Linked DNA regions of Homo sapiens. The protein of the gene in region 2 interacts with the protein of the main gene of each other region in a biochemical or structural test. Each region holds a gene or a part of one and is shown on either strand. Other genes may lie near its edges. The genes, in order: PAK4 and G6PD.

Region 1 (3,808 bases), on a different chromosome or scaffold from region 2:
AGGTTCTTCAGTCGGGGTGGCAGGTTGTCCCGAATCATCTTCATGGCTTTGAGGGGTGGCTCGTTGAAGTAGGGGGGCTCTCCGTCCACCATCTCAATCACCATTATCCCCAGCGACCAGATGTCTACCTGGGGCGGGAGAAGGGACAGCAGGGCTGAGCTGTTGGGGGATGGTGGGTCCTGGGGAGGCCTCAGGCAGGGACCGCTCCAGCGCTGTCTCTGCCTCTGGCTCCTGGAGTCCTTGGCCCAGAACTCCCTCTTGGGCACCCAGCCAGCAGTCCACAGAGCACTAGTCCTCCAGGGAGCCCCTCAAGAGAGCTGCCCCCCCAGCACCCACCCCTCTTCTTTCTGTCAACTGCCCCCAGGTGTCCTCCCTCCCTCAGCCCAGGTAGCATCCACTGGTGGGTTCAGGACCCATGCGGCCTCATCACCACAGTGGAGACACAGTGATTGGTTCAGAAACAGGCACAGGACCCAGGCTGAGCCAATCAGAGCCAACCTGGGGACTTTACCCAAAACACCCAGGGAAAAAGAGGAGCCCATAGGTGGGAGACACTTCCCAGAGCTGCCGGGACCAGCTCTGCTCCCACAAGGGGAAAGCCGGCCTGTGAAAACAATGCTCAGAAGGCAGAGCCAAGGCTGGGCGCGGTGGCTCACATCTGTAATCCCAGCACTTTAGGAGGCCAAGGCGGATAGATCACCTGAGGTCAGGAGTTCAAGACCAACCTGGCCAACATGGTGAAACCCCCATCTCTACTAATACAAAAATTAGCCAGGCATGGTGGCGGGTGCCTGTAAAACCAGCTTCTCGGGAGGCTGAGGCAGGAGAATCGCTTGAACCCGGGAGGTGGAGGTTGCAGTGAGCTGAGATTGCACCACTGCACTCCAGCCTGGGCAACAGAGCGAGACTCCATCTCAAAAAAAAAAAAGAAGAATGAATACATGCATGCCTGCAGTACCTCCTTGTCCAGAGCACCATTCCTGGCAATGACTCCCCAGACTGGGCCCCATCTCCCGCCAGCGCTGCAGCTGGAAAATGGCAGCGTACGCTGTCCACGGCGGGACAACCAAGCCACCCCGGGGCTCACCTCTGGCCCGTAGGGAAGGCGGGAGATGAGCTCTGGGGCCATCCAGTAGGGCGTGCCGACCAGCGACTTCCTTCGGGGCACTTCCTTGCTCACCTGGGCGCAGAACCCAAAGTCTGACAGCTTCACCTGGGACAGGGCAGAGGCAGTGGGGTCAGAGGAGCTGGCACAGCAGGAGGGCGAGCAGGGGCGTCTGCCTGCGTCATTCCTTGGCTTCAGACACAATGTGCGGCCCAGAGGTCAGAGCTGGGGTCTAGGGTCAGAGCTGGGGTCTAGAGCCAGACCAATGGGGAGCTCCACCACCTCCTGGTGGGGGCCCTCGGGCAAGTCACCTCCCCCACGATCCCCCCATTTCCCTCCCTGACAGCCTCTGGGGCTTTTGGGGACACTGGCCTGAGTACTGCAGATAGCAAAGGCAGGGCCGGAGCTGGGAACAGGGGTGGCCCCAAAAGCCTGTGCCCTGGGGCCCTGCTGCCCTGGAACAAGTCTTTAGTTCGGTTGGAGCAGAAAGTAGCCCTGCACTAGGGCCGTGAGGGGACACAGCCTGCCTTTGCGACAACCAGGCCTCTCACACCTTCTTAGGAACTGTGGGTCCCTTTCCGATTTTTGAGGATTTCTATGGGTCTTCCTGCCTCCAGCAAACATCCCCACAACCGTGTGTGGACAATCTCAGGTGGCCCATAGACATCGCCCCCAAAACACATCTATAGACATCTGGAGATTTTCAGACTGTCAGTGACACAGAGCTCTCTCTGCCTCTGCCTGGACTAATGGTGTGGCTTAATCTTCCTTGGGGGAGGGGATGGAGTCATCCACTTCTGCAAGCATTTCATTCAAGTCAAGGGCCCTCTCTCACAGAAAATCATGTCCACCCGACGTTATAATTGTCACAGCCTCAGATTTGGAACCTCAGTCCAAAGCATGGAAGACAGGACTGGGGTCCATGGACCGCCCTGGGTGCTGGGCAGGGAGCAGCTTTTCAGTGGAGGAAGAAGCCTGTGGCGGGGGCTGCGCTGTCTGCCCAGATCCCTGCCCCTGGGCCCAGTGTCCTGTGCTGATGGCAGAGCCCCCGCCAGCCTGTGCCCTCCCACTGCACAGAGTCCCCACTGAGCTGGAACCTGACTCTGGGCTGCTCCACCAGGGAGGGACGAAGTTCCCAGCTCCTCAAGACACAGACCTGGGGGTCAGAGCTCACCTACCCTCACAGGGGATGGGAAGAGGCAGGGAAGCCCCGCAGCCGGAAACCTGCCGCCCCCGTACCCCGCCGCCCGTCCCCTCACCCTGCCATCATGGGTCAGCAGGATCGAGTCGCTCTTGATGTCCCGGTGGATGACGCCCTGGGCGTGGAGCACCGACAGGGCCTGCAGCACTGCAAGGCACACGGCCGCGATCTGCTCCTCGTTCATCCTGCGGGGTGGGGTGGGGGGTGAGCAGCCAGCTGGACAGCACCCCGGGGTGCCGAGGGGGACGCAGCCCTGCCTTGCAGTGGGAGGAATCTGAGACCACTCGACCCCACTCTGGAGTGGGAGGAATGGAAGACACGACCCCATCCCAGGGGCCCGGAGCACAGCTGGTTTGGAGATGTGGCCCCACCCCTAGTGGTCTGGAGGGGACTTGGTCGTGTCACAGGAGGGGTCTGAGGCCCCAGAAATACCTGGTGTGGGTGACGATGTCGGTGAGGGCGCCTCCTTCCAGGAACTCCATGACCACCCAGAGCTCGTCCCCCACCAGGTAGCTGTTGTACATCTCCACCACATTCTCGTGCTGGTAGTCCCTCATGATTACCACCTGTGCAGGGGCTGGGTCAGTGGTGGAGGGAGGCGGGAGGGCTGCCAGTGCCAGACCCAGCCACCGCCACCCCCCTGGCTCCCCCTGCAGTTCCACATTAAGCTTGTGCTCACTGGGGCCACCTGGACTGCCCTCCCCTACTGCCACAGCCACGTGGGCCTCAGAGCCAGCTTGAAGCCCACGCCTCCCTTCTGGGGGCGCGCCCCCCTGGGCACACGCCCATCTCAGGTCAGTCCTGGGCTAGTGCTGGGGGGCAGGTGGGAAGAGAGCGTTCAATCACAGGGCTGAGACCCGGACAAGGGCAAGGATGAGAGAAGAGGCGTGTGTCGGCGGGAGGATGAGGAACCCAGGCGAGGAGCTCCATGGTGCAGCCCGGCACTGTGATGGGCAACGGGGTCGAGAGGGGCCTCACACACCCGGCAAAGGGACCTGGGCTTCCTATCGTCAGGGTGCTACGGGGCACTGCCAGGGTCTCTAAGGAGGGACGGGGAGGGGGTGGGCCTGAACGTCAGAAACATACTCTTGGTGGTTGTGTGGGCTGTGCCGAGGGACACCCAGGAGTGGAGGCCAGGGCGGGGCACAGGGAACCCAGGAGGGGCAGGTCTGGAGGACACTGTACCCTGGAGCCCAGGCGGGCCTCAGTGGGTGCGAGGGGCCTGGAAGACACTGGGTCGGGGGTCAGTGGCCCGAGGAACCCTGGGTCTGGGGCTCAGGGACAGAGATGTGGGTGAGGGTGCTGTGAGGACAGAGGCAGGGACCCAGCTGGGGCGGACGAGACGGCCTGGGGAGGGAGAAGAGTGAGGGGAGGAGGGGAGCCTGGCCCAGCACGGAGGAGTGCAGGGAGAGGAGGGAGGAGGGGAGGGAGGGTGGGAGGGAGGGGTGGGAGGACCAGCAGGGCGGCAGGGCAGCAGCGCCCGCACCTCGTTGAAGAGCAGC
Region 2 (3,286 bases):
GTTTCGCCATCTCCCTGGCAGGACACATGCTGCACTGAAACACCCAGGGGCTGTGTGGGGAGCAGTGCAGGGGCTGAACAGCGGCCCCCAAATACATGTCTCCTGGGAGTTCCTGATGTGGCCTTATTTGGAAATAGGAGGTCTGCAGATGTCGCTGAGTTAGGACATAGAAGTCACACCATGGGGAGGCCACGAGAAGACAGGCAGAGTGAGTGGAGTGAGGTGACCACCAGCCCAAGATGCCTGGTTCCCCAGGAGCTGGAGAGGGCAGGAAGGACCCTCCCCTTGGGCCTCTGGCGGGAGTGCTGGATCTTGGACTCTGGCCTCCAGAACTGGGAGAATCAGCCTATGTTGAGAGCTGCCCAGTGTGTGGCCCTTCTGCCTGGAAGGGGTGGCTGGGCCTGGCTGTGCATCACTGTGGACTGTCCCCTCTCCCTTGGCCTCTGACATCAGTCACAAAACCCATCCCCTCTCCTTCCTAAATACTTCTGTGGACTGGCAGTGTTGCTGGAAGTCATCTTGGGTGGGGCAGGGACATGGACAGTAAGAGCGGAAGGTGACCCCACATCCTTGCACCTCAAGCTGGTCTCACAATGACAATATGCGTGGAGCGGAGGAGGACTCAGGAGGTGTCTCTGACACCAAACATGGTCATGGCTGGACATGGGGTCAGAACCAGAAGTGAGGAGGCTCCTCAGTGGCCACAGAGGAAGCACCCGGGTGACTTGGGGAGTGGGACAAGGAAGTGGGTCCTCAGGGAAGCAAATGACAAGGGGACAGGAGGGGCTGTTTGCGGATTTAATGGCAGGGCATTGAGGTTGGGAGGGGTCCCAGCTGCTGCGTCTGCTTTTCTTATAGCAGAGAGGCTGCCTACGGGTGGCACGGGGTGGCCATGGAGTGCAGAGTTGGTGGGACAGGGGACATCCAGGGGGCTCGAGATGTTGCTGGTGACAAGGAATGTCAAGTGGCACTGAGGCTGGCGGGCAAGGCCACAGGCAGATTCTCTCACGTGGGTGCTCGCCCCTTTCCTCCCCCTCGTCCCTCCCTCCCACCCTGGCCCCACTCAGGAGTGAGACCCAGTGGCCAATAAGCTCTGGGACAGACGAATGGGCGCCCTCCTCCTTCCTTCTGTTGGGCTGGAGTGAGTGGAGGAGGTGACTCAGCTCCTGGGCTCAGGCAGGGTCTGGAGGGGCCAGGATGGTCTCGAGTGCTTGGCAGCTGAGGAATGTAGCTGGGCTCGGGTAGTAGCAGCAGCGAGGGGCGGGCCAGGGTGGCCAGAGCCCGGGGCCAGGAATGTGCAGCTGAGGTCAATGGTCCCGGAGTCCTCCCGACTCGGGGTCGGGCGGCGGGAAGGAGGGTGGCCGTGGCGGGGGTGGAGGTGGGTGCCCAGGGCTCAGAGCTTGTGGGGGTTCACCCACTTGTAGGTGCCCTCATACTGGAAACCCACTCTCTTCATCAGCTCGTCTGCCTCCGTGGGGCCTCGGCTGGAGAGTGACGGGTGGAGGAGAGGCATGAGGTAGCTCCACCCTCACCCCGCCCCTGCCCGCTGGGCTCTGTCCCCAGCCCCCACCCTTTCCTCACCTGCCATAAATATAGGGGATGGGCTTGGGCTTCTCCAGCTCAATCTGGTGCAGCAGTGGGGTGAAAATACGCCAGGCCTCACGGAGCTCGTCGCTGAGGGGACATGGTATGGCTTGGGAGGCCGGTGGCACACAGGGAGGGAGGGCAAAGGCCACCCCATAGCCCACAGGTATGCAGGGGCCGGCAGCTGGGCCTCACCTGCGCACGAAGTGCATCTGGCTCCCGCAGAAGACGTCCAGGATGAGGCGCTCATAGGCGTCAGGGAGCTTCACGTTCTGTGAGGGAGAGAGTGTCTTGCTGATGCCACTGCCTGCCACCATGTGGAGTCCCCCGGGCCCAGGCCGCCCACCCTCCACACTGCTCCTTCTCTGTAGGGCACCTTGTATCTGTTGCCGTAGGTCAGGTCCAGCTCCGACTCCTCGGGGTTGAAGAACATGCCCGGCTTCTTGGTCATCATCTTGGTGTACACGGCCTCGTTGGGCTGCACGCGGATCACCAGCTCGTTGCGCTTGCACTGCTGGTGGAAGATGTCGCCGGCCACATCATGGAACTGCAGCCTCACCTCGGCCTTGCGCTCGTTCAGGGCCTTGCCGCAGCGCAGGATGAAGGGCACCCCTACGTGGCGGAAAGGGCAGCCTCAGCACCAGCTCTCTCAGGGTGTGGACCAGTGCGTGAGTGTCTCAGTGGGAGCTCCAGTGCCCGCACACAGGGCATGCCCAGTTCTGCCTTGCTGGGCCTCGAAGGCATCACCTACCATCCCACCTCTCATTCTCCACATAGAGGACGACGGCTGCAAAAGTGGCGGTGGTGGACCCGCGGGGCACCGTGGGGTCGTCCAGGTACCCTTTGGTGGCCTCGCCCTCTCCATCGGGGTTCCCCACGTACTGGCCCAGGACCACATTGTTGGCCTGCACCTCTGAGATGCATTTCAACACCTTGACCTGAGAGAAAGCCAAGGGAGAGAATGGGCTCCTTGGGTGTTGAGTTGGGGTGCAGGGATGACTGTGGCCACAGATGTGCAGCCCTCAGGGCAGGAGGAGGCCCCTGCTTGGCTCTGCTCACCCTGCCAGAGGCCCAGCTCAGGGCCCCTCCCTGAGGACCCTCCAGGACCACCCTGGTCCATCTCGAGTCTATTCTGATGAACAAGCTGAGGCCCAGAGAGGCAATGGCCTTCCCTGGTCACATAGTGACTGTCAGGCCTGGGACATGACAACTTGGGCTTCATGACTGCCAGTCCAGGTCACCTCCGGGAGGCCACGCTGTGCTCAGAGGTGGTGACTTCTCCGGGGTTGAGGACACCTGCTCTGCATGCACACCCCAGCTCAGTGCCTCGTCACAGATGGGCCTGCGACAGGGCATGCTCCTGGGGACTGGGGTGCACCCCCTACCTTCTCATCACGGACGTCATCTGAGTTGGTGGAGGCGGGCTTCTCCATGGCCACCAGACACAGCATCTGCAGTAGGTGGTTCTGCATCACGTCCCTGGGGACGGAAGAGGCCAGAGCTCGCCTTAGCTCCCCGCCCTGTTCACCTGGTTCAAGGGCATGGGGACCCCAAACAAGGCTTCCTAGTGACAAGCTGCAAGACTCACTTCCTGATCCCCCTTGTCTTCCAGGTCCCCTTAAATCAAGGAAGGACATGGTGATGCTATCACTGAATCATAAAACCGTGGGGTGCTTGGCTGTGTAGGGGTCCAGCCCTTTCC

The links.
Region 1: the proteins of G6PD (region 2) and PAK4 form a complex in vitro, tested with the Homo sapiens proteins (one study listed by BioGRID).

Annotation. Positions count from the first base shown.
Region 1 is NC_000019.10:39,173,995-39,177,802, reverse strand, and holds part of PAK4 (serine/threonine-protein kinase PAK 4), read right to left. Parts: coding exon 3,793-3,808; intron 2,873-3,792; coding exon 2,739-2,872; intron 2,492-2,738; coding exon 2,365-2,491; intron 1,214-2,364; coding exon 1,088-1,213; intron 129-1,087; coding exon 1-128. UniProt on the Homo sapiens protein: Serine/threonine-protein kinase that plays a role in a variety of different signaling pathways including cytoskeleton regulation, cell adhesion turnover, cell migration, growth, proliferation or cell survival.
Region 2 is NC_000023.11:154,530,607-154,533,892, forward strand, and holds the end of G6PD (glucose-6-phosphate 1-dehydrogenase), read right to left. Parts: intron 3,064-3,286; coding exon 2,970-3,063; intron 2,523-2,969; coding exon 2,336-2,522; intron 2,197-2,335; coding exon 1,961-2,196; intron 1,857-1,960; coding exon 1,780-1,856; intron 1,675-1,779; coding exon 1,582-1,674; intron 1,485-1,581; coding exon 1,394-1,484; 3' UTR 785-1,393; downstream 1-784. UniProt on the Homo sapiens protein: Catalyzes the rate-limiting step of the oxidative pentose-phosphate pathway, which represents a route for the dissimilation of carbohydrates besides glycolysis.